Regions from separate parts of the Homo sapiens genome. Here region 1 is linked to region 2. Evidence: fine-mapped expression QTL. A gene starts in region 2. The other region holds a variant in brackets. All regions are shown on one strand. Distances are between the middles of the regions. Region 1 overlaps LINC00671 (long intergenic non-protein coding RNA 671). Region 2 holds the start of WNK4 (WNK lysine deficient protein kinase 4).

The links. PIP is the estimated chance that this variant, and not a neighbour inherited with it, causes the effect.
Region 1: its variant is fine-mapped to the expression of WNK4 in esophagus mucosa (GTEx, PIP 0.98).

What each region holds. Positions count from the first base shown.
Region 1 is chr17:42,869,135-42,884,131 of GRCh38, forward strand. LINC00671 (long intergenic non-protein coding RNA 671) reads right to left here. Exons shown (of 6, transcript NR_027254.1): 4 at 9,393-10,684; 5 at 8,841-8,939; 6 at 5,540-5,729. It also overlaps the pseudogene AOC4P. Among named protein-coding and RNA genes, the nearest start is that of LINC00671, 22 kb to the right of the region's middle. RefSeq lists an enhancer at 8,666-9,195. The variant T/C (reference allele first, on the strand shown) is at 7,693.
Region 2 is chr17:42,777,317-42,791,131 of GRCh38, forward strand. It overlaps WNK4 (WNK lysine deficient protein kinase 4), which reads left to right and starts at 3,294. Exons shown (of 19, transcript NM_032387.5): 1 at 3,294-4,000; 2 at 5,442-5,614; 3 at 6,621-6,841; 4 at 7,106-7,263; 5 at 7,781-7,869; 6 at 7,950-8,166; 7 at 9,962-10,226; 8 at 10,462-10,583; 9 at 10,814-10,872; 10 at 10,974-11,091; 11 at 11,365-11,481. The coding sequence starts at 3,383. VPS25 (vacuolar protein sorting 25 homolog) reads left to right here. Exons shown (of 6, transcript NM_032353.4): 6 at 1,641-2,283. The coding sequence ends at 1,753. RefSeq lists enhancers at 3,367-4,324, 5,614-6,813, 6,719-7,350.

The sequences.
Region 1 (14,997 bases), 92 kb after region 2:
GCAGGAGAATCACTTGAATCTGGGAGTCAGAGGTTGCAGTGAGCTGAGATTGAGCCACTGCACTCCATCCTGCGTGACTGAACAAGACTTTGTCTCAAAAAAAAAAAGTATTCCATGCTTTAAAAAATTACCTCTGTGATTATAGAATTTATTATATTGTATACTATGTATAAATATGATATATTGATATAAGTATTTAGATTTCTATATTCAAATGTTATCATAATGTACCTACGTTTTGCCACTTCTGTTTTTTCATATAACAACATTATTCAAGCAAGCAACAAAAATGTATGAATGCACACTTGTGCCAAGCACCCAACTATGCAATTTAACAAAAGAAACAACATTGTTGCTCTCAGATGGTTTACATTCTTTTTTTCTTACCTTTTGTTTTTTCTTTTTTCTTTTTTGAGACAGGGTCTCACTCTATCACCCAGGCTGGAATGAGGTAGTGTGATAATAGCTCACTGCAATCTCCAACTCCTGGGCTCATGTGGTCCTCTCACCTCGATCTCCCAAAATGCTGGGATTACAGGTGTGAACCACCATGCTCAGCCCTTATCATTTTTTCGTGGTGAGAACACTTAAAATCTACTCTTAGCAGTTTTCAAGAATATATAACATATTAACTGTAGTCACCATGTTGTACAATAGATCTCTTTGGGGTTTTTGTTGTTGTTTGAAACAGGGTCTTACTCTGTCACCCAGGCTGGAGTGCAATGGTGTGATTACAGCTCACTGCAGCCTCAACTTACTGGGCTCAAGCAATCCTCCCACTTCAGCCTCCTGAGTCACTGGGACTATGGGCACATGCCACCATGCTCAGGTAATTTAAAATTTTTTTTATAGAGATGGGGATCTCGCTATGTTTCCCAGGCTGGTCTTGAACTCCTGGGCTCAAGCGATCCTCCCTCCTCAGCCTCCCAAAGTGCTGGGATTACAGGCATGAGCCACCATGCCCAGTCCAATAGATCTCTTGAACTTCTGAAATTTTTTATTCATTGAGCTACATCTTCCCAACTCCACCCTCCTTAAGGCCCTGATAACCACCATTCTATTTCCTACTGCTATGAGTTCAACTTTTTTTAGATTCCACATATAAGTGAGATCATATAGTATTGTCCTGCTGTATCTGACTTATTTAATTAACATAATGTCCCCTAGGTTCATCCATGTTGTTGCAATGAGATTTTATTCTTTTAAGGCTGAATAGTATTTCATTATGTATATATAGGACATTTTCTTTATCCTTAAAATTTTTTCCTTATTCCTTATACATTTATTAATTGGAATTTTCCATAAGGAAGAGTTGTCCTTCCTTTTTATTTCTGTTTTCAATTATTTATTCAAATTGTATAGACTCATGGTTTTTTATTGTACTCTAAGGGTTATAACCCAGTACTTCATTTATTTTGTTCCTTACATTTTTCCAACTTTGGCCATTGGGAGATCCTTCAGATTAGTTCCTATGTCCTTTTCACATACCTCCACACGTTTTTGAGCACTTCTTTACTTTCTGGCACCCAAAAATGTTTCAATTTCATCTGGCATTTTCCCTGCTTCTACCCTGGAATCAACCTTGTCTCCAGGGAGATCGGGTTCACTTTATTGGAGAATGGTATTTAGAAACCAATATCTGGGCACCAAGTGTGCTCATTATTACTGGGATGTCATTGCTTTTAGGCCCTCTCAGTGGACTTAGCTAGAAAATTTAAGCATATATTCCAACCAACCCATACACACACATCTATCTTTATCTCTGTTATTAAATGATGACAACTTTTAAAACACTTGGAACAGTGCCTGACACATAGTGGGCCCTTGAGAAATACTAGGTATTGTTGTGATTAGCCACAGGAGCCTACTTGTGTGTGTGGACCATAAAGAACTCTTAGTCTCTGGCCGGGCACAGTGGCTCACGCCTGTAATCCCAGCAGTCTGGGAGACTGAGGTGGGTGGATCTTCTGAGGTCAGGAGATCGAGACCAGCCTGGCCAACATGGTGAAACCCCGTCTCTATTAAAAATACAAAAATTAGCTGGGCATGCTGGTGTGCACCTGTAATCCCAGCTACTTGGAGGCTGAGGCAAAATAATCACTTGAACCTGGGAGGCAGAGGTTGCAGTGAGCCAAGATCATGCGACTGTACTCCAGCCTGGGCAACGAGAGCGAAACTCTGTCTCAAAAAAACCAAAAAAACAAAAAAAACTCTTAGTCGGCAATTGTCACCTAAGGGTGGAAACACTGGGATATGGAGTAGGGGCAGTGAATCTACAAAAGGAAACTAAGGGTTTGCTGAATCAGTCTCTCCTCTCTCCTGGTCTTTGGAAGGTGCAGAGGGAGCTACCAGCATGTTTTGATTTATTGCTCCTTGTCTCAGATCACTTAACTTGACTCCTAATATGGGACCTAGTTAGACTCAAATAAAATCATTCAGACTCCAAAAGTTCAGGAAACAGATTGTGTCTTAAGCCCCGCTCCCTGCTCCCTGCCAAATTTCAAACTGCGAAAGGTATCTCCAAGCCCCAACAGCGTCGGGCCCAGTATTGGTTTTCCTTCCCCTTGGTCCCCATGTCTGCTGTTCTGTTGTGGTGTCTCTCTGTGCTGTCTTCCTCTATGTGCTGATGTGTGGGCAGTGTAAGGCCAGACTAAGAACCAGGTCCCCAGCACTGCCATGATATTAACCGTGTGTCCTTGCTGACCAACCAGGGTACATTATTGAATGCTCTAAGACTCAGTTGTCCCATCTGTAAGATGGAGACAATGATAGTTCCTCCTTTTTGAGATTGTTGTAGAAGTGAAAGCATGAATACACAGAAGGCACTCGGCATGCTCCCTACACAGCTCCTTCAGGTTGAGTCAATGTGAGGCTTATTTTCATGATAAGGCAGTCCTGGCAATGCCACAGGGCTTCACATGTGAGGAGAAGTCTTCAGGTCAGAGGGAGTGCCACCTGCCTATTGCCCACAGGATTGTTCCAACCTCAGGTAAACACCCTCCCATGCAGCCCCTCAGAGGGAGGACATTGGTGGAGGCCCAGTCGCAAGGCATCTGGGATTATTACCAGAGAAGACAGAAGGGAGAAAGCCCTCCTCCAAATCCCTGGACTGGGACTATCTTGGGGAGAGGGAAGAGAAGCAGGGGCACACTCAGTTCTGGGCTGCTCTTTGGCCCCCACTCTGCCCCCACTCTGAAGCCAGGTGGGGGCAGAGTCCAGAGGGGCCAGGGCAATTGCATGACTGGCCCTCCCCGATCCCACCCTGAGCAGGACTGGAGAACTGGGTCTGGGCCGAGGATATGGCCTTTGTCCCCATGGCTGTGCCCTGGAGCCCTGAGCACCAGATGCAGAGGCTGCAGGTGACCCGGAAGCTGCTGGAGACAGAGGAGCAAGCCACCTTCCCCATGGGAGGCGCCACCCCTCGCTACCTGTACCTGGCCAGCAACCACAGCAACAAGTGGGGTCACCCCCGGGGCTACCGCATCCAGGTGCGCAGCTTTTCTGGGGAGCCACTGCCCCAGAACAGCTCCGTGGAGAGAGGCTTCAGCTGGGGGAGGTGAGTGGTCGGCGGTCAGGAGGGAGTGGGGCAAGTAGAATGTATGAAGGGCTCCACACTGCTCCACCTCCCACAGGTACACACAAACACACACACACATTCCTGTGGCCGCAATCTGTAGGCACTCAAAACAAAGCCTAATGGGTGGGTGGAGGAATGCTGAGATATGAGGCATTGAAGAAAATCTAGGAAAATGTTAATGGTAGACGCTAGACTTGAGTATGTGGATGTTCACTATACAATTCTTCCAATTTTTCTGTATGTTTAAAATGTTCACATTAAAGGTTGGAGGAAAAAAACAGTGAGATGGGAACACAGATCGGAGGGAGGATTCCCTGAAATCTAGGTATTTGAGATACTGAACTTGACCTAGGATGGGAAACAGGCCATGTCCATATGTATGGTTCCAAGGCCCAGGCTCAACATCATGCTCTGATCCAGATGGATGGATGAGCAACATTTCTACCTGAAGCCTGGTGGGCCAGTTGATGTTTAAGGTACAGGACAGTGGACAAGTGGGGGAAGTCTGCAGAGGAGAGAGAGAGAGACAGAGACAGGCAAGGAGAACTGGACAAAGAATGATACAGAGGCTCAATACTCCAAGACTTTGGGGCTCATTTCCCCCTAGTGTTCACTCTTCAGTGCAGCTTCAGGCAGTGGGACAGTTGACGAACTTGTAGGTCTAATAAAAAACTCCTGTAGGTACCAGCTGGTGGTAACCCAGCGGAAGGAGGAGGAACCTAGTAGCACCAGCATCTACAATTTGAATGACCCTTGGACACCCACTGTGGACTTCACTGACTTCATCAACAATGAGACCATTGCAGGGCAGGTTAGTTGCGCGGAGGGGTGAGCAGGCAGCTGGAGAGGAGGGGAGGAGTCAGGGGGACAAGATGAGCCACTTCACTGCCTCAGAAGCGAGATTCCTCAGGGATCTTCAGAAACCACTAACAATGAAACTTTGGCCGGGTGCAGTGGCTCATGCCTATAATCCCAGCACTTTAGAAGGCTGAGGCAGGTGGATATCTTGAGCTCAGGAGTTCGAGACCAGCCTGGGCAACATGGTGAAACTCCATCTCTACTAAAAATACAAAAATGAGCAGAGTGTGGTGGCGCGTGCCTGTAATTCCAGCTATTCGGGTGCCTGAGGCTTGAACCCAGGAGGTGGTGATTGCAATGAGTCGAGATCACACCACTGCACTCCAGCCTAGGTGACAGAGCGAGACTCTGTCTCAAAAAAAAAAAAAAAGAAAGAAAGAAACTTTATGATTTCAGATTTTTCCTGAGAAACTAAGAACATACAGGTGGGTGAGCTGACTCCCTATCTGCAAGGTCACTGTGGGAGGCAGGGCATGTCCTCAGCAAAGCCAGACCTCGTGATCCTCTTTCTTCTCCCCTGCTAGGACTTGGTGGCCTGGGTGACAGCTGGTTTTCTGCATATCCCACATGCAGAGGACATTCCTAACACAGTGACTGTGGGGAACAGCGTGGGCTTCTTCCTCCGACCCTACAACTTCTTTGACGAAGACCCCTCCTTCTACTCTGCCGACTCCATCTACTTCCGAGGGGACCAGGATGCTGGGGCCTGCGAGGTCAACCCCCTAGCTTGCCTGCCCCAGGCTGCTGCCTGTGCCCCCGACCTCCCTGCCTTCTCCCACGGGGGCTTCTCTCACAACTAGGCGGTCCTGGGATGGGGCATGTGGCCAAGGGCTCCAGGGCCAGGGTGTGAGGGATGGGGAGCAGCTGGGCACTGGGCCGGCAGCCTGGTTCCCTCTTCCCTGTGCCAGGACTCTCTTCCCTCCACTGCCCTCCTTCACATCCCCCTCTGAGCCAGGAGCCTCCTGACCCTGTGATGCCTGACACAGGGGACAGTCAGCTTTGTTGATGCCAGCTGTGCTGAGTTCCCATCCAGAGAGGTGAGGCATGGCCCAGCCTGGAGCCTGGAGCCGTGGCTAAGCATTTCTCCAGACCACTCCTGGTTTTCTTAACAGTTTGTTTTTTTTAATGAGACATAATTCACATACCATAAAATTCATCCCTTTAAAGTATACAATTTCAGCCGGGTGCAGTGGCTCACGCCTGTAATCCCAGCACTTTGGGAGGCCAAGGCGGGTGGATCACGACTTCAGGAGATTGAGACCATCCTGGCTAACACGGTGAAACCCCGTCTCTACTAAAAATACAAAAACAAAATTAGCCAGGTGTGGTGGTGGGCGCCTTTAGTCCCAGCTACCTGGGAAGCTGAGGCAGGAGAATGGCGTGAACCCAGGAGGCAGAGCTTGCAGTGAGCCGAGATCGCGCCACTGCACTCCAGCCTGGGCGAGAGAGTGAGACTTCATCTCAAAATAAAATAAAATAAAATAAAACTAAATATACAATGTCATGATTTTTTTTTTTCCTGAGACAGAGTTTCGCTCTTGTTGCCTAGGCTGGAGTGCAAGGGTGCGTTCTCAGCTTACTGCAACATCTGCCTCCTCAGTTCAAGTGATTCTCCTGCCTCAGCCTCCCGAGTAGCTAAGATTACAGGTGCCCACCACCACGCCTGGCTAATTTTTTGTTTTTTCTTTTGTATTTTTAGTAGAGATGGGGTTTCACCATGTTGGCCAGGCTGGTCTCAATCTCCTGACCTCAGGTGATCCACCTGACTCGGCCTCCCAAAGTGCTGGGATTACAGGCATGAGCCACTGTGCCTGGCCCAATTTCATGTTTTTTAGTATACCCACAAAGTTTTGCAACCATTGCCACTAATTCCAGAACATTTTTTATCACCCCAGAAGGAAACCCTGTATGTGTTAGCAGTCACTTTCTATTTCCCCCCAATCCCTCTCCATTTCTAGATAACCACTTCCCTACTTTCTGTCCCACTGGGCTTGCCTGTATTCTGGCATGAAAAGATTCAAACAATACGTTGTCTTCTGTGATTGGCTTCTTTCACTTAGCGTAATGTTTGTGAGATACATCCATGTTGTAGTGTATGTCAGTGCCTCACTTCTTCATGGTTAAATGATATCTCATTGTATCAATATATCTCATTGTGATTATCCATTCATCCGTTGGTGGGTATTTGAGTTGTTTCCACTTTTTTGGTCATTATAGATAATGCTGTTATAAACATTCATGCACAAGTTTTCTTGTGGATATGTGTTTTCACTTCTCTTGGGTATATGCCTAGGAGTAGAATTTCTGGGTTATGCGGTAATTCTATGTTTAGCCTTTTGGGAAACTGCCAGATTGTTTTCCAAAGTGACTATACTTTTTTCCTTCTTTTAAAATTGTATAAAATATATGTAACATAAAATTTGCCACCTTGGCCCAGGCGAGTGGCCCACACCTGTAATCCCAGCACTTTGGGAGGCTGAGGCAGGCGGATCAACTGAGGTTGGGAGATCGAGACCAGCCTGGCCAATGTGGTGAAACCCCATCTCTACTAAAAATACAAAATTAGCTGGGTACGGTGGCATGCGCCTGTAATCCCAGCTACTTGGGAGGCTAAGGCAGGAGAATCACTTGAACCCGAGAGGCAGAGGTTGCAGTGAGCCCAGATTGCACCATTGCACTCCAGCCTGGGCAAAAATAGCAAAACCCAGTCTCAAAAAAAAAAAAAAAAAATTGGCCACTTTAACCATTTTTAAGTGAGAGTTTAGTGGCATTCAGTAAATTTGGAAGCTCTTTTGGGCCACCTTAGCTCTCCTCTGTCCTGTTTTGTTTGTTTGTTTGTTTTTTGTTTTTTAAGATAGATTCTCACTCTTGTTGCTCAGGCTGGAGTGCAGTGGCATGATCTCGGCTCACTGCAATCTCTGCCACTCAGGTTCAGGCGATTCTCCTGCCTCAGCCTCCCAGGTAGCTGGGATTACAGGTGCCCGCCACCACGCCTGGCTAATTTTTGTATTTTTAGGGGAGACAGAGTTTCATCATGTTGGCCAGGCTGGTCTCGAACTCCTGACCTCAAGTGATCCACCTGTCTTGGCTTCCCAAAGTGCTGGGATTACAGGCGTGAGCCACCATGCCTGGACTGCCCTGGGTCTTAAAGGTGAATAGGGAGCCTCTAGAGACCAGACTGTTCTCCCAAAGCCCCAGAGCAGGTTCCCCAGTAGATGTGCATCTCAGTTTTGGGCCTTGAATAGCAGGTCCTTCTC[T/C]CTGTCTGTTCCCTCTCATGCTGACAAAGTCCTCCTCCTCTCGGTTTTCCTGCTACTTCAGCTTCTATTCCCTGCTGGTTTTTGTTTTTTGGTTTTTGTTTGAGATGGAGTCTCTCTCTGTCACCCAGGCTGAAGTGCAGTGGTGTGATCCCGGCTCACTGCAACTTCCACCTCCCAGGTTCAAGTGATTCTCCAGCCTCAGCCTCCCAAGTAGCTGGGACTACAGGCGTGCGCCACCACGTCAGGCTAATTTTTGTATTTTTTGGTACAGACAGGGTTTCGCCATTTGGCCAGGCTGGTCTCAAACTCCTGACCTCAAGTGATCCTCCGGCCTCGGCCTCTCAACGTGCTGGGATTACAGGTGTGAGCCCCTGCGCCTGGCCTGTTCCCTGCTGTTTGTAGCGGAGGTCCTGTGGGAGCGTCCCTGCTGCCTCAGGTCTTGTAGTTCCTTCCTGCATTCCTTACTTCTGGTGTCCTCCTCTGCCCCTGGGCTGGGTTAGCCTTGGATCTGCAGGTACTGTCTTGTTTGAAGAAGGACAATGCTTGGTTATCTCCTTCTGGGGGACCTATGTCTCTGAACAGCTTTCTTCATCTTGCCTCTCTGCATTTCATTGTCATAAAAAAATGTTTCTCCTGTCATCTTGTCATCTGCCTATACTAATAATCCTCTTACAAGTTCCTGCCATTTACACAGGCCATGCGGAATATGCATTTGTGAGGGGGAAGGATGGTCAAGTGTCAGCAGCAGCCCAGGGGTTTTGTGGGTGGAAGGATGAAAAAGATGAAGGGTCATCTGGTCCCAGGGCCCTGGTGACAGTAGCCTCTGTTACTCTGCAGCAGTCAGCATAGGTGACCAGAAAGTCACTGAGGGTAGGCACTAAAAAGCCTCAGGAGTGGCCAGGTGCAGTGGCTCACACCTGTATTCCCAGCACTTTGGGAGGCTGAGGTGGGCAGATCACGAGGTCGGGAGTTCAAGACCAGCCGGACCAGGGCTGCCCCTCATGGGCTGTGGACTTTGGACTTTGGATTGGCATAAATAAGAACCGGGACAATTCCCAGGAAGGGATTTGGGGGTGGGAGTAAGGTGGGGAGGAGGTAGGGCTCAAACACCAAGCTTTCTCAGGTGTGTCAAGGCAAGAGAAACTTACGCAGTATGAGGCGTCCACACCTCTGCTCCTTCAGTGTCTTTTCTGGGAGTGAGATCAAGAAGAGAGGGTGTCCCGTCCCAGCAGATGGTGAAACCCCGTCTGTAGCAAAAATACAAAAATTAGCCGGGCGTGGTGGTGCGTGCCTGCAATCCCAGCTACTCAGGAGGCTGAGGCAGGAGAATTTCTTGAGCCTGGGAGGCGGAGGTTGCAGTCAGCCGAGATCGCACCACTGCACTCCAGCCTGGGCAACAGAGTGAGGCTCCGTCTCAAAAAAAAAAAAAAAAAAGTCTCAGGAGCTCGGGCAGCCAGGTGGGGAGCTGGCCCATCAGGAGTTGGCATGCAAATGAGCCACGTGCCTCCCAGCGGGGGACCAGAGGCCAGGTCAGGGCAACAGCCTCCAGGGCTGCCCGTCATGGGCTGTGGACTTTGTATAGGCATAAATAAGAACCGGGACAATTTCCAGGAGGGGATTTGGGAGTGGGAGTAAGGTAAGGGGGAGGTAGGGCTCAAACACCAAGCTTTCTCAGGTGTGTCAAGGCAAGAGAAACTTACCCAGTATGTGGCGTCCACACCTCTGCTCCTTCAGTGTCTTTCCTGGGAGTGAGATCAAGAAGAGAGGGGGGGGTCCCGTCTCAGCAGGAAGCCCAGGCTGCCCACCCAGTCTGAGGGGACGGCACTGACTGGGCAGGATCTGGCAAGAGGGGAGTTTAGGGTGCAGATTTGGGTCCAATTCAGCTTGTGACCAGAAGAGGGATCATCAACTGGGATCCCAGATCACATGGAATCCTGTGGTTCCCTTGAGAACTGCCTGGACCCCCAGGTCAACCATATGGGCTGGAAAGGAAGTAAGTTCTAGCAAAAGGACCTTCATACAAGGACTAAAGCCGTGGGAACCACACTTCAATTCATGACTTTCAGCATATCTTGAAAGCACTTAGATAGGGAAGGTTTGGAAAGGCAGAACTGCTACTGCCGCTGCTGCTGCCTCTTCTTTCCATTTTGTGTCTCAGCTCAAAGATAGAGCTTCTCTTTACCCTCTCAGCCCAGATAAATATCTTGTTTTGCCTTTCTTGCATTTTTTTTTGTTTAAAGAAATTTGGAGGCTGAATTGGGAGGATCACTTGACCCCAGAAGGTCGAGGCTGCAGTGAGCCATGATTGCGCCACCGCACTCCAGCCTGGGCAACAGAGTGAGACCCTGTCTCAAAAAAAAAAAAAAAAGGCCGGGGGGGGGAGCATAATAGTGGAAATGCTCTGTCTTGCCCTGAAAATGAATGCTGTAGAGAGCCAGGGCTGCCACTCTTGGCTGCTCCACAGGTTGCTTCTCCAGATGCGGAGATGGGGAGAAGGGACCTGTGGCCCCAGGCTGAGGTCTGTGAGGGGCCTGCTGCTGTGGCTCACTTGCTGACCAAGGAGGATGCCATACGGCCCCCCACTGGGGTCTGAGGGCGCAACCCAAGCCACCCTGAAGGGGTGTGTGCACAAGGAGCTCTCAGGAGAAGCCCCCAAGGTGGCCTGTTGGAAGGCTCTGATGGGAACATTTCCTTCCACCTTCAAGAAAGAAGCAATGGGACCCTGAAGAATGCAGCCCAGAGAGATCCAAAGGGTCAGAAGCTCTGGGGCAAATCTGGTAAACTTCCTGGGGGTGCCACAGACTCATCTCCACCTTGCCCTGTGGTCTGGCCCCGCCTTCTGGTGGAGCCTGCCCCCGCCTTCTGGTGGAGCCTGCCCCGTCCCCACCCTGACACTTGACCTGTGGCTGACAGTGGGCCACCTCTGCTCCACTCAGGCTCCGTGGCCGGAGAGTCTGCAGCTTCTCTGGCATTCCTCCTCCCCGTCTGGGTCCTGTGATGGAAACAGTCTCATTCAGCTGCCCCAGAGACTCACAAGTCCTTTACTCATTCAGCAAGTATTTTCCAGTCCCTGCCATGTGTTGGGCCCCTGTTAATTCTATAGTAATATTTGTTGTGGTAAATAAAATTGCCTTCATAGTGATGTCATGGTGGAGGGAGGAACACTCAGGAGAAGAGGGTGTCTCTGAGCCCACAGAGCTCCCACTGCTATTTCTAAGAGGCCAGCAATACATCTTTGCATTTCAGAAAACTGGGTCTATTCAAGAAATAAAGATGGATGGAGGTCAAAATGGGAATGGATTTGGAGAACAGAGTGGGGGTGGGGATGGAGCAGGATGGAAATGAGAGGGGGTGGAGAGGGAATAGGGGGGAGGTTGGTGATGGGGAGGGGACAGGATAAGGAACAAGATGAGGAAGGGGGAAGGTGGAGTTGGAGTGGAGATGAGGATCAAAGTGAGGAGGGCTGGGTCATCCTCTGGCCTCTCCTACCATGCCCCATCTACACGGATGCAAAGAAAACTTCATTCACTCATCGAACGTTTCTGGGACTCTTCCTGAATGCCAGACTTGCATTGGTACAGAAAAATGACTCTCTTCATACTTGCCTTCAAAGAGCTCAGAGTCTGGGCTGCGGAGAGGTCTTTTTATAAACAAAAACACTGGCCGGGCACAGTGGCTCACACCTATAATTTCAGCACTTTGGGAGGCCAAGGCGGGTGGATCACATGAGGTCAGGAGTTTGAGACCAGCCTGGCCAATATGGAGAAACCCTGTCTCTACTAAAAATACAAAATTAGCCAGGCGTGGTGGTGCATGCCTGTAATCCCAGCTACTTGGGAGGCTGAGGCAGGAGAATCACTTGAACCCAGGATGTGGACGTTGTGATGAGCCGAGATCGTGCCATTGCACTCCAGCCTGGGCAACAAGAGTGAAACTCTGTCAAAAAAAAAAGAGCTATGACAGACAAGTGGGGCACAGAATGAGGAGCCATCTATCCCTGGTGGGAGTCTGGGAGGACTTCAGAGAGGAAGTGATGGTTATGTGTGTTTAATTGGATTCATTTATTTAATTCAATTAGTAATACATTCACATGTTCGAAATCCTAAAGGCACAAAAGAACTTGTGTCTGGTCATGGTTGCATAATTCTGTGAATGTACCAAACACCATGGAAACCATTGAATTATGTACTTTAAATGGGCGAATGATACAGTATGTGACTTATAGCTCAATAAAATTGTATTTCAGAAAAGGGTTTATGTCTCCATCCCACATCTGATAATAGTTCCTCCCTGAAGTCAAATAATATGGTGAGTTTCTTCTGTATCTTTTTTGTTGGGAGTTGGGGAGTGACATTTGAAGTGGTGAATGAGCTGAATTTAGTCAAGTAGTGGACTGCGGAATACAGTGTTCTGGCAGTGACAGAGGCACGAAGGCTCGTGGTTCTGTGAATGCCCCAATGGTTGGAGCATGGGGTGAGGGTGGCAGAATGGCAAAGGCTGATTGGGGGTGGGGTGAGCAGAGCCTTGGAGGCCATGCGAGGCAGTGTGTACTTCATCTGTAAGCAGTGATGATCCAGACCTTTAAGCTGCATGAAAAACAATGTGACAATAATTTAAAGACACCCAAATCTCCTTCCAACATCCCGTTGTCATTCACCTAAGTGAAACTGCAGTTCTTGTCTCTATGCACTCATGCGTTTACCTAGTTAGGTAAGCACAGTCTAAATACACTTTTGTATTCTACTTTTTCCATTTAATATTAATCATAAGCATCTTTACAGGTTGTCATGTAATACTCAAATGGATTTTTTTTTTTGAGATGAAGTCTCGCTCTGTTGCCCAGGCTGGAGTGCAGTGGCACGATCTCCGCTCACTGCAAACTCAGCCTCCTGGGTTCAAGCGATTCTCCTGCCTCAGCCTCCTGAGTAGCTGGGATTACAGGCACCCGCCATCGCGCCTGGCTAATTTCTGTATTTTTAGTAGAGACAGGGTTTTGTCATGTTGGCCAGGTTGTCTCAAACTCCTGACCTCAGGTAATCCACTCGCCTAGGCCTCTCAAAGTGCTAGGATTACAGGCATGAGCCACTGCACCCAGCCAAATGGATGGTTTTTAAAGGATAAGAGGTACTCTATCAAGTCGATAGTAAACAAATCATTCCCCATTGGGCAATTGGGTTGGTTCCAATTTGCTATCAAGTGGAAGAATGACCCAGTTGGATCTTGGCTTTGGACAATGGCTTTTACATGGCCAACTCACAGGCTCAGAGCTAAAAGGGATTCAGGGAGTCAGCTGGGCTCATCCTTAGGGTTTCTGTGGCCGTGAGTAAGCACCCCATCTGAACCCATTTCTTCATCTGGAAAGTGATAATGTATTTAAATCACTCAAAAGCTTTTTAGGCCTTGGTAGATTTCTCTGACACTGGAAGGTCCAACCACAGCCTACCTGTTACGCATCAAAGGAACTATCTGAAGACACTGGAATCCTAGCCAGGCAGGGTGACTCGTGCCTGTAATCCCAGCGCTTTGGGAGGCTGGGGCAGGAGGATCGCTTGAGGCCAGGAGTTCAAGGTCAGCCTGAGCAACAGAGTGAGATTCTGTCTCTACAAAAAATTATTAAAATTAGCCGACCGTGGTGGCACATGCTTATAGTTCTAGCTACTTGGGAAGCTTGAGATAGGAGGATCAAGTGACAAGCCCAGGAGTCCGAGGCTGCAGTGAGCTATTATTATACCACCGTACCCCAGCCTGAAGGACAGAGTACCCCAGCCTTGTCTAAAAAAAAAAAGACATAAGACTTTGACGTCCAGATGCTCTCTCCATATTCTGGCCTAGAAAAGTGTCCCCATCACCCTCTTGCCTTCCTTGGTCAGATGGCAAATGAGTGTCTGGGGCAGATGCACTCTGGAGGCTCAAGAGGAAACATTCGGGGCTGCCTGCAGCAGTGCTGAGGCTGCAGTTTAATTTTCTTTGACATCAGTGGTAGAATTTGTCCACTAGGGGCCGGGCGCAGTGGCTCACAACTGTAATCCCAGCACTTTGGGAGGCCGACGTGGGTGGATCACCTGAGGTCAGCAGTTCGAGACCTGCCTGGCCAACATGATGAAACCCTGTCTCTATTAAAAATACAAAAAATTAGCTGACCGTGGTAGCAGGTGCCTGTAATCCCAGCTACTCGGGAGGCTGAGGCAGGAGAATCGCTTGAACCCAGGAGGCAGAGGTTGCAGTGAGCTGAGATTGCACCATTGTACTCCAGCCTGGGCAACAAGAGCAAAATTCCGTCTCAAAAAAAAATAAAAATAGAATTTGTCCACTAGGTACTGTGCTAGGTGCTGGCGGGGGAGACAGTGGGTCCCAGACAGACAGACATGGCCCCCCGACTGGCTTGGCCCAGGGGAGATGCTGCTGGAACAAGAAAACCTCTCTGATGGTTCTTGGAAGTGGGAGCTGGCCCGAGGCCCTCCATCTGCCCCTCATCTCCCTCTCAGAGGCTGTTGCTTCTTCTCTCAGACCCTCTGGCCCCAGCTTCCCTGTAGCTGCCACAGAAACCTCATCATATGAAGGGAAAGAGGCTGTAGCATTCTCAGTAGGGCCCGGGTCTCAAACACCTCCATGCTGCATGTCTCTTATACCACTTTTTTTTTTTTTGAGACGGAGTTTTGCTCTGTTGCCCAGGTTGGAGTGCAAGTGCCATGATCTCGGCTCATTGCAACCTCTGCTTCCCGGGCTTAAGCGATTCTTGAGCCTCAGCCTCCCAAATGGCTGGGACTACAGGCACGCACCACCATCCCCAGCAAATTTTTGTATTTTTAGTAGAAATGGGGTTTCGCCATGTTGCCCAGGCTGGTCTCAAACTCCTGAGCTCAGGCATTCCATCTGCCTTGGCCTCCCAAAGTGCTAGGATTACAAGCATGAGCCACAGTACCCAGCCCCTTATGCCTCTTAACTTTACATCTCCGGGTCAGAATATGATGGGGAATTCTCCCTTTCTCGAGGACCTCCAAGGAATGTGATGTCTGTCACTCCCAATTCTCCTATTGAGAAGGAAAAGCCAGTACAGGACAGAATACTCTGGGCCAGATAATTTCCATCTTTGTTTCACTTAATCCGCATAACAACCTTGAAAGGCAGATGTTAATTACACCCATTTCACAGATGCAGAAACTACAATTCAGAGAGATTAGGAAACATGCCCACAGTCATCTGGCTGGTAAAAGGTGGGGCTGGGAGTGAACCCAGATCTTTGCAGAATTACACCTCACGGCCTTCCCTGGGCCGTGGCTCTTTTTCCACTGCCTGGTAGGCCTG
Region 2 (13,815 bases):
CCAGCCTGGCCAACATAGTGAAACCCCGTCTCTACTAAAAATACAAAAATTAGCCGGGCATGGTGGTGCATGCTTGTAATCTGAGCTACTTGGGAGGCTGCAGCAGGAGGATCGCTTGAACCCGAAGGCAGAGGTTGCAGTAAGCCAAGATCGCACCACTGCACTCTAGTCTGGATGACAGAGCGAGACTCCGTCTCAGAAAATAAAAATAATAACAATAAAAAAAATTATAAATAACTTTCTTCATTCAGCATCTGCTATAGATGCCGAATGAGAAACAAGGGCAGGGGATTAAGCTTGAAATCTCATTCCTTGCTGACTCAGGCTCTCTTTCACCCTTTATTCTTATAGAGGGCTCAAGATCTGTGGGTGTCAGCTGAAGAGATTAGGCCAACACCCCCAGCCCATTTATATACTTTGGTTTCTGGCCAGGCAAGGATTTGTATAGTGTTTGATTTTTACATAGCGTAAACACTCTTAGTTCTTTTTCTCCGACTCCAGATTCTGATCCTCTGGATCACCACAAGTTTCGATCTTAGCTGGGATAACAGAGGGTGTCTCCCCTTTCTGCCAGGCCCTGGCTGCCCTAGCAGAGTTTATAGCTCTTGGCTGTTCCCCCTGCTGCCCTGCAGGTCTCTGCTTGCTACTCCCACCATCACCCCATGATTTCAGCACTGTAGCCTTGCCTAGCCCACCACTCAGGTTGGGCAAAGTTGTAGGTTTCCTCAGAAAGCAAGCTCCCTGACTTAGCTGAGCCCCCACAGGGGGTGAGGTAAGCAAGCCTGTCAGGGCTTGCCTGCTGCCTCCCACATCTCCCTGCAGTATCTTACCATATCTCCACATACTCAGCTAGCCATAGGCTCCCCAATTTTTTTGGTTTTTTTTTTGAGACAAAGTCTTGCTCTGTCCCCCAAGCTGGAGTGCAGTTGCACGATCTTGACACTGCAACCTCCACCTCCCGGGTTCAAGTGATTCTTCTGCCTCAGCCTCCTGAGTAGCTGGGATTACAAGTGACCACCACCATGCCCAGCTAATTTTTTGTAATTTTAGTAGAGACAGGGTTTCTCCATGTTGGCCAGGGTGGTCTAGAACTCCTGATCTCAAGTGACCCTCCCACCTCAGCCTTCCAAAGTTCTGGGATTACAGGCGTGAGCCACCGCGCCTGGCCTGTGCTCCCAGCTAAAAGCTAGAAAAAGGGCAGATAATAGTGCTGGAGTTTAACAGTCTCCTGGCCAGGGGTACTGGCTATATTCTTTGTGTTAGGATAGATCCTCTAGGGTCAGTGTCTAGTGACAATGGCTCCGATCTCCCTAGGCCTGATTTTCACGGCCCCTTTGTGGCCCTGAAGCAGATGGTGTCATTCTCGTGCATCAGACACAAATGCTAGGTGTGGGGGAGGCTGAGTCTGAGAGGAGAACCAAGAAGGGGGAAATAAGCACAAACTCATTTCATGCTGATTCAGGCTTTCTTCCACCCCTTACTCCTAAGGAGTGCCTGGGAAGTGTGGATGGCAGCTGTAGCAGTATAGATGGCTTATGCATACCCTGCCTCTGGGAGGTCTCGGCTTCCAGCCAGAGCACTCTCCTCAGAGGCCTTGGGCCTCAGGAGCTGATTGTCTCTGCCTATCTCTCCCTGTTCAGAGTTCCACGGGCTGGATGAAGCCACTCTACTGCGGGCTCTGCAGGCCCTACAGCAGGAGCACAAGGCCGAGATCATCACTGTCAGCGATGGCCGAGGCGTCAAGTTCTTCTAGCAGGGACCTGTCTCCCTTTACTTCTTACCTCCCACCTTTCCAGGGCTTTCAAAAGGAGACAGACCCAGTGTCCCCCAAAGACTGGATCTGTGACTCCACCAGACTCAAAAGGACTCCAGTCCTGAAGGCTGGGACCTGGGGATGGGTTTCTCACACCCCATATGTCTGTCCCTTGGATAGGGTGAGGCTGAAGCACCAGGGAGAAAATATGTGCTTCTTCTCGCCCTACCTCCTTTCCCATCCTAGACTGTCCTTGAGCCAGGGTCTGTAAACCTGACACTTTATATGTGTTCACACATGTAAGTACATACACACATGCGCCTGCAGCACATGCTTCTGTCTCCTCCTCCTCCCACCCCTTTAGCTGCTGTTGCCTCCCTTCTCAGGCTGGTGCTGGATCCTTCCTAGGGGATGGGGGAAGCCCTGGCTGCAGGCAGCCTTCCAGGCAATATGAAGATAGGAGGCCCACGGGCCTGGCAGTGAGAGGTGTGGCCCCACACCGATTTATGATATTAAAATCTCAACTCCCACTGCCTGCCTCTTAAATTACTACAGTACTGGAATGGGGATGGGGAGGGCTGTGAAGTGTTGCCACCTGAGTAAATCCCAGCCTGGGAGAGGGGAGAGAAAAGAAAGCTTATGGCTTTTGTAGAAGAAAAGGTCCTCCAGGGCCCTGTGGGCTCCAGTGAGCCTGTGGTTTTACATCTGCTGGGTGGGCTGTGTGGAGGAGTGCTGATGGAACACAGCTTGGGGACAGACTGCTTTCTCTCTGAATTGGAGTCACTTAAGGGCTCCCCCTTCCCTCACCATCTCCCTCATGGAAGTCCTGAACTACTCTGAAGCCCCTCCCTCCACCCATCTGGTCTGGGTGGGGTAACTGTGGCCAAGGGGAGCTGAGGGGGGTAAGCCGGATGTGGACTTTGGTTTATTGGAGACTGGCAAACAGAAGGGGAGGAAGGAGAGCCCATATAGCAAAAACAGCCACTCTGGCCAGGGTTAGGCTGCGGCCAAGGTGGCCTGGAGGGGATGGATGACCGGGCTCTCGGTTTGGGGGAGGGACTTATCCTGGGGAGTACACACCCATTCCCTATGCAGACCAGAGGGACAACAACGTCAGACCTTTCCACTGACCTCTCCGTTCGGCCTGGGGCTACTCCGGACAGTTAGGAGGGGGTGGTGCTGCCTTATCTGGGGTGTGCAGGAGGGTGGTAGCCTCCCCCTAAGTAATCCCCCACTAGGGTCCGGGTGTCGTTCTCTCCTGCCCTCCTCCGCGCACAAACAGGTTTGCTCACTCTTAGTGCGGGAGGATGCTCCGCGGTCTCCCACTCAGTTCTGGCCTCAGAGTGAGACTGCGGCCGGGGGCTCGGGAAAGAAGGGGACGCGGCTGGGCGGGGCGGTGACTAAGGTGAGGGGCTGCTCGCGGGATCCGCACCGCGGGAGCAGCTCGGAGGGGCGGCCCTGGGGGGCAAGGGCGGGCCGCGGGGCGGCGACGGGGGCGGGGCCAGGCCGAGCTGGGGGCTGGGGCCGCAGCCGCTCAGCCGGAGCGCAGCGCACCCAGCGAGTCCGTCTGTCAGGCCGCCTCCTCTCCGGCCGTCTGATTTTCTACCCTTCGGCGCCCTGCTCTTCCTCATGTTGGCATCCCCGGCCACGGAGACCACCGTCCTCATGTCCCAGACTGAGGCCGACCTGGCCCTGCGGCCCCCGCCTCCTCTTGGCACCGCGGGGCAGCCCCGCCTCGGGCCCCCTCCTCGCCGAGCGCGCCGCTTCTCCGGGAAGGCTGAGCCCCGGCCGCGCTCTTCTCGTCTCAGCCGCCGTAGCTCAGTCGACTTGGGGCTGCTGAGCTCTTGGTCCCTGCCAGCCTCACCCGCTCCGGACCCCCCCGATCCTCCGGACTCCGCTGGTCCTGGCCCCGCGAGGAGCCCACCGCCTAGCTCCAAAGAACCCCCCGAGGGCACGTGGACCGAGGGAGCCCCTGTGAAGGCTGCGGAAGACTCCGCGCGTCCCGAGCTCCCGGACTCTGCAGTGGGCCCGGGGTCCAGGGAGCCGCTAAGGGTCCCTGAAGCTGTGGCCCTAGAGCGGCGGCGGGAGCAGGAAGAAAAGGAGGACATGGAGACCCAGGCTGTGGCAACGTCCCCCGATGGCCGATACCTCAAGTTTGACATCGAGATTGGACGTGGCTCCTTCAAGACGGTGTATCGAGGGCTAGACACCGACACCACAGTGGAGGTGGCCTGGTGTGAGCTGCAGGTGCGGCTGGGAGCCCCCTCGGTGGCACCTTGGGATGGGACTCTGGAGGTCTTAGGATGACAGACAGAGGGTGGGGGAGACAGCATCAAGGGAAGCATGTATTTTTCCAGTCAAATGTCTATAGACACCTCTGCTGTCTTTGCCCTGAATGATCTGGCTGACTCTGGGCTGCAGAAGGAGAGATTGAGGCAGGTGGTGTCTGGTGACTCCCCCATGGGTATGAACATTCTCACTTTAAAGTCTCCATACTCAACCCTGAGAGGTGGAAAATAGGATGGGAAGTTAGGCAGGGGAGCCAGTTCAGGTCAGTTTCCTGCTGGTGGGTACCCGCAATCCCTTCCTCTCCCCTAAGTCCTGAGATCCTCAGTTATGACCCTGGTCCTCTTGATCCCCTCACTCCTCCCGTCCCCCACCTATTTGCAGACCAGGAGGCTGGGATGCGGGAAGCCAGGAGCTGGGCAAGGGTCATCTCCAACTCCAGAAGATTTAGGGCAGTTGTGGCAGAATAGGGCCCCCTAACCCCTTCTGGAGCAGTCAGACTTCTGGACTTCTCCACAGCTGCGAGGAGGGGGACATAGGGAGCTCCAGCTCTCGAGTGAGTCCAGTTCTGCTCCTCATCCCACTGCCTACCTGTGCTCTCCCTTCCCAGACCTAAAGGCACTAAGCCCATGGGCTTTAGGGGGACCTTCCTCCCATTGCTCCCATGCTACATATGGGTTAGGAGAACCCAGTCAACTTGGGGCCTGAAGCTTCCGATTCAGATCAGGGGACAGAGCCTAGGGGAAGGGTCCCTCTCCAGCCCTGGCACAGGGCTCGCCCCTTGCGCCTGCCAGTGCCGCGCCCCAGGCTCTGGGCCAGGCCAGGAGAGGCAGCCAAATTGGGGGGTGAGGGGAGGGAGAGGAGCCGGGGCGGGACGACTATGGGGGTGGGCAGCCTCCTGGCGCCTAGTCCTGGATCTTTTCTTTCCTTCTCAGTACCTCCCTCCATATCCCTCCCGCCTTCCGTCTGGATCTAGCAGTTCTGTTTCTGGGGCCAACCCCCTTGCCGGCCCCAATTCCCTGCCCGCAGTATCCTGCTGCCCGCCTGCTGCCTGCTCACTGCCAGCCCCCGGGTGCCCCCTCCCGCCCCATGGCCGGCCTGGGCAGCCACAAAGGCACTATTGAGCTCAGGGCTCTGGGACCGGGCTGCATAAAGGTGCTTGTGTCCAGCAGGGGGTCTAGGGGGCTGCCCCAGGCCCAGGTTGGGTGTGTCCTTGGATCAGCTTACGTGCGGGACTGTTGGAGAGTTCAGGGTCTGCAGCCCACTGGGCAAGTAATCCCATTAACCCCACCCCATCTGTGGGCTCCAACCCTCACCTCTTCCCCCAACCCCACTCCAGGTGTCCCTCTTCCTTTCTGTGGGTGTCCTGGGCCTGACATGACACCCGTCCCCCATCCCACAGACTCGGAAACTGTCTAGAGCTGAGCGGCAGCGCTTCTCAGAGGAGGTGGAGATGCTCAAGGGGCTGCAGCACCCCAACATCGTCCGCTTCTATGATTCGTGGAAGTCGGTGCTGAGGGGCCAGGTTTGCATCGTGCTGGTCACCGAACTCATGACCTCGGGCACGCTCAAGACGTGAGCTCTGCGCATGAGTGGGTGGGGAGAGGGAGGCTGGGATGTGTGCCCACTGCTTCCTGAACTCCCAGGCTCCTCAAACTCTCTAATATCCAGGTGTAAAACCAGGTTCACCATCTCCCTCTCACCCAACCTTTGTCCCTGCCTCGGTGAGTGGCAATGTCCACCCAGCACTCCAGTAAAATACTTGGGTGTCTCCCCAGACTCCTCTTTCTCCACTCTGCCCCCTCATCAGTCTGTCCCCAAGTCTTTCCTTAACCTCTCCCCACCTGGCTTTCACTGCTTCATCCATGCCACCACCTCAATGCCATCTCGCTGATCTGGAGCCCTGCAGCAGCCTCCTAAAGGGCCTTCCCAAACTCTGCCACCCTCTAAGCGATCCTATCTTCCTGCAGCCTGGAGAATCTTTCCCAGTTGAAAATCTGAACTGTCACTCCCCTCCTTAAAACCCCTTCAAAGTTTCTCATGGCCTTGGAATAAAGCCCACACAGGCTCACCTGTTCACAAAGTCCTTAGGATACAGCCTCACTTTCAGCCTAAGCTCCAGACACACCAAATTCCTGGCACCTCCTCCCACCCTGCCTTGTCACTGGCTTTTTCTGTGCCTTTGAGCACGGTGTCCTGTCTGCCTGGGAAGTCTCCATCCCTTCCCCCTTTCACCTTTGAGCTCCTACTCATCATTCAAGATGCAACACAAAAGTATTTCCTCTCCGAAGCTCTCCCTCATGCTTGGGGCAGTTAGTCATCCCTTCCTGCGCTCCCACAGCACCTTGGCCGAGGCCCTATCTATCAATTTACTTCCCAACCCGTTTGGTAACGTCATGTCTATCCACCATGCCCCCTGACTCAGTTTCTCCCTGGGGCCGGGCAGACATAGGCTAGGAGAATGCTGGCAGAAGATGCGGAGGCGGCAGCAGGGTGCGGCAGGGGGGAACTTCCCAGTGGGGGGCTCCTTCCCGGAGGACGTGTCCCCCCACCAGGACTCTGGCTATGCGCCCTCCCCCAGGTACCTGAGGCGGTTCCGGGAGATGAAGCCGCGGGTCCTTCAGCGCTGGAGCCGCCAAATCCTGCGGGGACTTCATTTCCTACACTCCCGGGTTCCTCCCATCCTGCACCGGGATCTCAAGTGCGACAATGTCTTTATCACGGGACCTACTGGCTCTGTCAAAATCGGGGACCTGGGCCTGGCCACGCTCAAGCGCGCCTCCTTTGCCAAGAGTGTCATCGGTGCGTCTCTCCAGGAGGGTCCATGCCATTCCTTCCTCCCCCACCTCAGAAGAGAACCTGGGGACTCCCTCCCCTCAGCAAGGGCCTTCAAGGTCCACAAAACTACCAGACGACAGGGAAGCTGAGGAGACCTATGGCACCCACCTCAACCCCACTGTGGGCCGGGGTCACTTGCACTCGCAGGGTTGCCTGGGGCTGCCTAGCCCAGTGGGAAGGACGAGGCCAGAGTGCCCAGCAATCTGATCCCTGCTGTGGACCCTACAGGGACCCCGGAATTCATGGCCCCCGAGATGTACGAGGAAAAGTACGATGAGGCCGTGGACGTGTACGCGTTCGGCATGTGCATGCTGGAGATGGCCACCTCTGAGTACCCGTACTCCGAGTGCCAGAATGCCGCGCAAATCTACCGCAAGGTCACTTCGGTGAGAGGGATGGGGCTGGCGGGAAAGGCAATTCCAGGGCCACTTCCCCTTTTCCTGCGCCGGCCAGCCCGCAGTCAATGCCCTTTGCCTGCACGAAAACAGGCTAGACACAGAGTCGCCTTGGTGAACACAGAAGGATATTGAGTGCACACGCGCCCCCACCAGTACACGCTATTTAGAATAATAATATGTGTGGTGCTCCCAAGAGTTCACAAATGATTTCGCATCCCATCTCTCATCCAATCCTTCCAGCTGCCCTGTGAGGTGAGCGGGGCAAATGTTCCACCCTGCGATTTACAGATGAACAAACAGCGGGAGACTTGTTCAAGATCACACTGTAAATACTTGGGGGGGGGGCGGGGATTAGGATTTGAAATCACATCTTCCAGTAGCAGTCAGGCTTTTGCAACTGCACGCGCAGCTGCCTAAGGAGGGAGTGGAGTAAGGGGTGGGGGGTGGTGTCAAGCCGAGAGCTGGGGATCAGAGGACGGGAGGTGTCATGCAACCCCTTCCCCAGGGCAGAAAGCCGAACAGCTTCCACAAGGTGAAGATACCCGAGGTGAAGGAGATCATTGAAGGCTGCATCCGCACGGATAAGAACGAGAGGTGGGGGTGAAAGGGCAGAGCGTGGGTAGAATAGGGCCGCGGGCCGCGGCGGGCTCGGCTCACCCACGCGTCACCCTCAGGTTCACCATCCAGGACCTCCTGGCCCACGCCTTCTTCCGCGAGGAGCGCGGTGTGCACGTGGAACTAGCGGAGGAGGACGACGGCGAGAAGCCGGGCCTCAAGCTCTGGCTGCGCATGGAGGACGCGCGGCGCGGGGGGCGCCCACGGGACAACCAGGCCATCGAGTTCCTGTTCCAGCTGGGCCGGGACGCGGCCGAGGAGGTGGCACAGGAGATGGTGAGCGGAGGACAGACTGTGCTGCCACTGGACGTGTAAAGGACATTGACTCGAGGGGACAGTGCAACAGGGATGGGGCGCAGGAGGGGTGGCAGCGATGGGGGCGGGGCACCTCACCCCTCTCAAAATCTCCTGCAGCGTCTCCCTACCTCTCCAGCCCTAACTTACCCGCACGCACACCCAGTTTTCCTTTACAGAGGGAGCCCTGGGTCCTCCAGCGTCCCTGCTTTACCTCCAGCTGATCTGTTCTTCCTGGGATGCCCTTCTTGCCAATTCATCTTTTCCTTCTTTCCTCCCTCCCCATTTTTCTTTTTCTTTTTCTTCCAATATGATCAGAACCATCGATTTCGGGAAGCCGTCCCCTTTGGAGTCAAACTTAAATGCTTCTTTCCACTTCAGCATGTTCTCGGTTACAGCACTCCCCACTATCGGTCCTGTCTTAAACCTGAATAAGTTCCTATCTTTCTTCTCCACTAGACTATAAACTCCCTGAGGGCAGAGACTGTGTTTTATCGATTCTTCTATCCCTGGCAGTGCTTGGCACATAGTAAGAGCTCATTAATAGCCTACATCTGTACATGGCTTAAAGCACTTTCACATGCATTTGATCTTTGCTACCCATCCTGCATAGGGGGCAGTTTTATCTCAACTTGTTGATGAGGAAATGGAAATTCAGAGAGGTTGAATACCTTGTCCAGGGCCCCAAGTAAGTAAGTGGAAGAGCTGGATTGAAACTGAGGTGGTTCAGATTTTAAATCAGGTTACCCTTCCCCACCTCCTTTACTCATTCAGCAAAGCTTGCGGCTAAAAGGAATGAGGAGGTGATGAATGGAAGCTGGTAGAAGGGGAGAGGCATAAGATGCAAGGGCAGAAGCTTGGGGGCTGGCTTAGGAAGTCCTGAAGGGAGTATGGGATTCTTTTTTTGGGAGTAATGGAGTCTCACTCTGTCACCCAGGCTGGAGTGCAGTGGCGCTATCTCAGCTCATTGCAACCTCCGCCTCCTGGGTTCAAGCAATTCTCCTGCCTCCGCCTCCTGTGTAGCTGGGATTACAGGCAAAAGCCACAACGCCCAGCTAATTTTTGTATTTTTAGTAGGAACGGGGTTTCACCATGTTGGCCAGGCTGGTCTCGAACTCCTGACCTCAAGTGACCCACTAGTCTTGGCCTCCCAAATTGCTGGGATTACAGGTGTGAGCCACCGTGCCTGGCCGAGTATGGGATTCTTAATAGAGACATGACAGTTGCAAGGGTGGAGACCACCTACGGTAGGTCAAGAATCTGAGAATGTGTTAGAAATTTAGAGCAGGTCTCCATAGCACGGCCCAACCTGACCTGAGATCAAATCTTGATCCATTGCTGACAAGGGATTCTTGGCCTTGGCACTGTTGACATGTTTGTTTTAGGGACTGTCCTGTGCATTGTAGGATGTTGAGAAGAACCCCTGGCTTCCGCTCACTAGATTCAGTAGCACCTACCCTCCAGTTGTGGCAACTAAAAATGTCTCTAGATAGTGCCAAACATCTCTTCTTCCCATTGGAAACCACTGACTTACTGTATAACTATGAACCAGCTACTTCATTAATCTCTAAAAATCGAATGGTAAGATTTATCCCACAAGGTTGTTTGGAGGATCTAGTGATGATAATGTAAGGAGCTGCCAGTTAACAGACATAGTGGGTAATCAGTAAGTGTTGGTTTTCTTCCTCCCATATCCTGGAGTTCCCAAGAAGGCGTCCTGATGGATCTTTGATAGGGGGTCCCAAGCTGTGTTCCTCATCCCCCACCCCAATTCCAGGTGGCTCTGGGCTTGGTCTGTGAAGCCGATTACCAGCCAGTGGCCCGTGCAGTACGTGAACGGGTTGCTGCCATCCAGCGAAAGCGTGAGAAGCTGCGTAAAGCAAGGGAATTGGAGGCACTCCCACCAGAGCCAGGACCTCCACCAGCAACTGTGCCCATGGCCCCCGGTCCCCCCAGTGTCTTCCCCCCTGAGCCTGAGGAGCCAGAGGCAGACCAGCACCAGCCCTTCCTTTTCCGCCACGCCAGCTACTCATCTACCACTTGTAAGTCACCCCTGATCTTGAGACGTAGGTCCCAGAACACCTTGGCCTCTGCCCCCTACCCAGAAGTTCACCCCCACAGCAGTCACTTACCCTGCCTTCCACCTCTAGCCATGAAGCTCCCTCCAGGAAGGAACTCTCCCACAGCTCCAGGCCCCTCCTTGCTTAGGCAGGCCCCATCCTCTGCCACTATTCCCTTTTATTTCCCCTTTTTTTGATCCTCTCCCTCCCCAACCAGCGGATTGCGAGACTGATGGCTACCTCAGCTCCTCCGGCTTCCTGGATGCCTCAGACCCTGCCCTTCAGCCCCCTGGGGGGGTGCCATCCAGCCTGGCTGAGTCCCATCTCTGCCTGCCCTCGGTGAGAGGGGGTCGCATGGGGGGCTCCCAGCCATTCCAAGCCTATGACCTATCTCCCTCCTTGTGAAACCCAATCTCATGATCCAGTCCCATGTCCCTGGAAATCCACCATTCTTGCCCTCCTCTTCCCTAATTCCATCTCCCTAATATCCTCCCAGCATCCTTGACACCATCTCCCTAGATCTCAACAGTTATCTTCCCCTGACCTCATGAACCCTTATCCTGTTTCAGGCTTTTGCCCTATCCATTCCACGTTCTGGCCCTGGAAGTGACTTTTCCCCCGGGGACAGGTATGTTCTGGTACAAGTTGGGGTGCCAGGGTGAGACACCTGGGGCACTGGGGTCCCAGTGTCTGCTCTGACAGTCATTCTCTCTCCTTTCTCTTTAACAGCTATGCCTCAGATGCAGCTTCAGGCCTTAGCGATGTGGGAGAAGGGATGGGACAAATGAGGAGACCCCCAGGGAGGAATCTCCGGCGCAGACCCCGATCCCGGCTGCGGGTCACTAGTGTAAGGATGGAGTACAGGAGATAGAGAGTAACCTACAGGGCCAGGAGGGAAGTGTCAGGGGGAGGCGGGGGAGGTCACCCAGAAAACGGGAGAAGCAGTGTATGACTAGTACTCAAGAGGCGGCCAGTCTGGTTTCTAATACCAGACTTTAGAGGTGGGGTCTACTTATCTCCAAGTCCATTGTGGCTGCTGTCACTTGGCTGGGGTAGGGTGGAGACACAGCATGATGAAGAGGGCTTGACCTTCTCCCCTCTGCTGACTTTGAATCTGAAGGTCTCAGACCAGAATGACAGAGTGGTTGAGTGCCAGCTACAGACCCATAACAGCAAGATGGTGACCTTCCGATTTGATCTGGATGGGGACAGCCCGGAAGAGATTGCAGCTGCCATGGTGAGGGGGAGAGAGATGAGGACAGAGTGTTTGGATCTGGAACAAGAGTCTCCTTCCTGATGTCCGCTGGGGCTGAAACCCACTGATCCGACAGCAAGCATTTTTAAATCTCTGGTTGACACTTAGCACAGTAACGCTGAAGATGTCTCAGCCCTTGTTTTGGGGGAGATTTCTGTTTATCCAGTGAGGTTTGGCTTCTCAGCTGGAGCAATTTGAGACTCACATTGACCGGGTACACACAAGTGCTACGTATAAGTGCCTGGTAGATGTGCAATACTGTGGCTGTAGGTGAAGGATGGACTGGGCAGCAGGGGCAATGAGCTTACCCAGGATCTTGGCAAATGGGCAAGAAAGGCTGTGAAGGGTGGAAAGGCCATGAAGGGTGTCCCTGTGCAGGGACAGCATAAGCAAAGGCATTCCAAGTAGAGAGTGTCTTGGAATATGGGGCTGGGAGGGCTTCATGAGGAAACCACTATCACTGGAAGTAAAGATTCCTATAGGAGAGTTGTGGGGAGTGAAGCCGGGTAGGTAGAGTGGGCCCAGATTGTAGAATAGACAATGTTAAGAGTTAGGCAGAGGCCAGGCGTGGTGGCTCACACCTGTAATCCCAGCACTTTGGGAGGCCGAGGCCGAGGCAGGCAGATCACCCGAGGTCAGGAGTTCAAGACCAGCTTGGCCAACATGGTGAAACCCCGTCTCTACTAAAAAATACAAAAATTAGCTGGGTGTGGTGGCGCATGCCTGTAGTCCCAGCTACTTGGGAGGCTGAGGCAGGAGAATTGCTTGAACCCGGGAGGCGGAGGTTGCAGTGAGCCGAGATCACACCATTGCACTCCAGCCTGGGCGACAAGAGTGAGATTCTGTCTAAAAATAAATAAATAAATAAATAAATAAATAAATAAATAAATAAATAGAGAGGCAGAGCAGGCTAGGTCCAGTGGCTCACACCTGTAATCCCAGCACTTTGGGTGGATGAAGTAGGAGGATTGCTTGAGCCCAGGGGTTCAAGACCACCCTGGTAATATAATGAGACCCTATCTCTACAAAAAATTTAAAAAATTAGCCGTGTGTGGCGGCACATGCCTGTCATCCCAACTACTTGGGAGGCTGAGGTGGGAGGATCACTTGAGCCTGGGAGGTCAAGGCTGCAGTGAGCTTTGATCACGCCACTGCACTCCAGCCTGGAAGACAGAGTGAACTTTGTCTCAAAAAAAAACAAAAACAAAAAAACAAAAAGGCACAGTGTAACGTGACAGTAGGCTTTATGAAAATCATCTGCCATGGGATGTGGAAGGGGGAAGGGAAAATACCTGGGAGGTAGACCCAGGAAGCCATCTGTGGACAAAGGAGAGAGTGGCTTATGGGAGGGAAGAGGAGAAAGGGTGAATCTGAGGGTTGTTTCGGGAAAATAAGTTACTCTGTAATCCAGTAACCTATTGACGTAGTAGAGAACATAGTACATAGTAGATGCTCAATAAATATTTGCTGAGTTGATATGATTGGGAGTTAGGGAGAAGGGATGTCAAGGACAACTTGTAGGCCACCAAAGGAGAGTAGGAGAGTAGGCCACCAAAGGAGAGAGGAAATTAGAAATGAAAGAAGGTTTTTTTTAAGGAGGTCATGATGAGCTTGAGTGAAGAAGGGACAGCCAAGACAAGACCCTCCATAGCCATGGATATGGGTCAGGCAGGGCTGGAGAGATGTGGATGGAGGAGTAGTCAGTACAGAGTTGAGAGTGAAGGGAGATGAGCCGGCAAAGCCAGAGACACAGAGGGTTGCAGAGTGTGTCTCAGCGCATACCACCAGTTCTGGAGTGGGAAGCGGGAGGGTAGGTCATCGAAGGACACAGAGACAAAGCCAGAGACGTAGGAGGATGTTAGTCAAAACTGAGTGAGGAGAGAGTTTCAAGGAGGTGGCATAGGATGAATCCTCAGGCAAGACCACACTGGCTTTTGTTAGGAGATCTTTGTGGGAGACCAGTTTCAGTGGAGTGGGGGTGGTGGATGCCAGCCCATGGGGTGAAGGAGGGAAAGGAATGGGAGAAACACCAGGCATCAGGAGCCCTCTCTAAAGCATCTCCTCCATCATGTCATTCACCTTGTGTCCAGGACAAAGACACAATATCACCTGGCACACAAGGCTCATCACCTTCCGTCAAACCACTTGACTCTTTCAGAGTCTTCCATCCAGCCACACTGGTTTCAAAATGGGCCTCTGAAAAGGCTGGGTGCCTTCCTGCCTCTGCCTCCACCTCCTTAAGGGTCTCTCACTCGTAGAGCCTTCTGTATTGGGCTTTCAAGTCCCCTCTGATCCTGCACAGCCAAAGTGACCCCA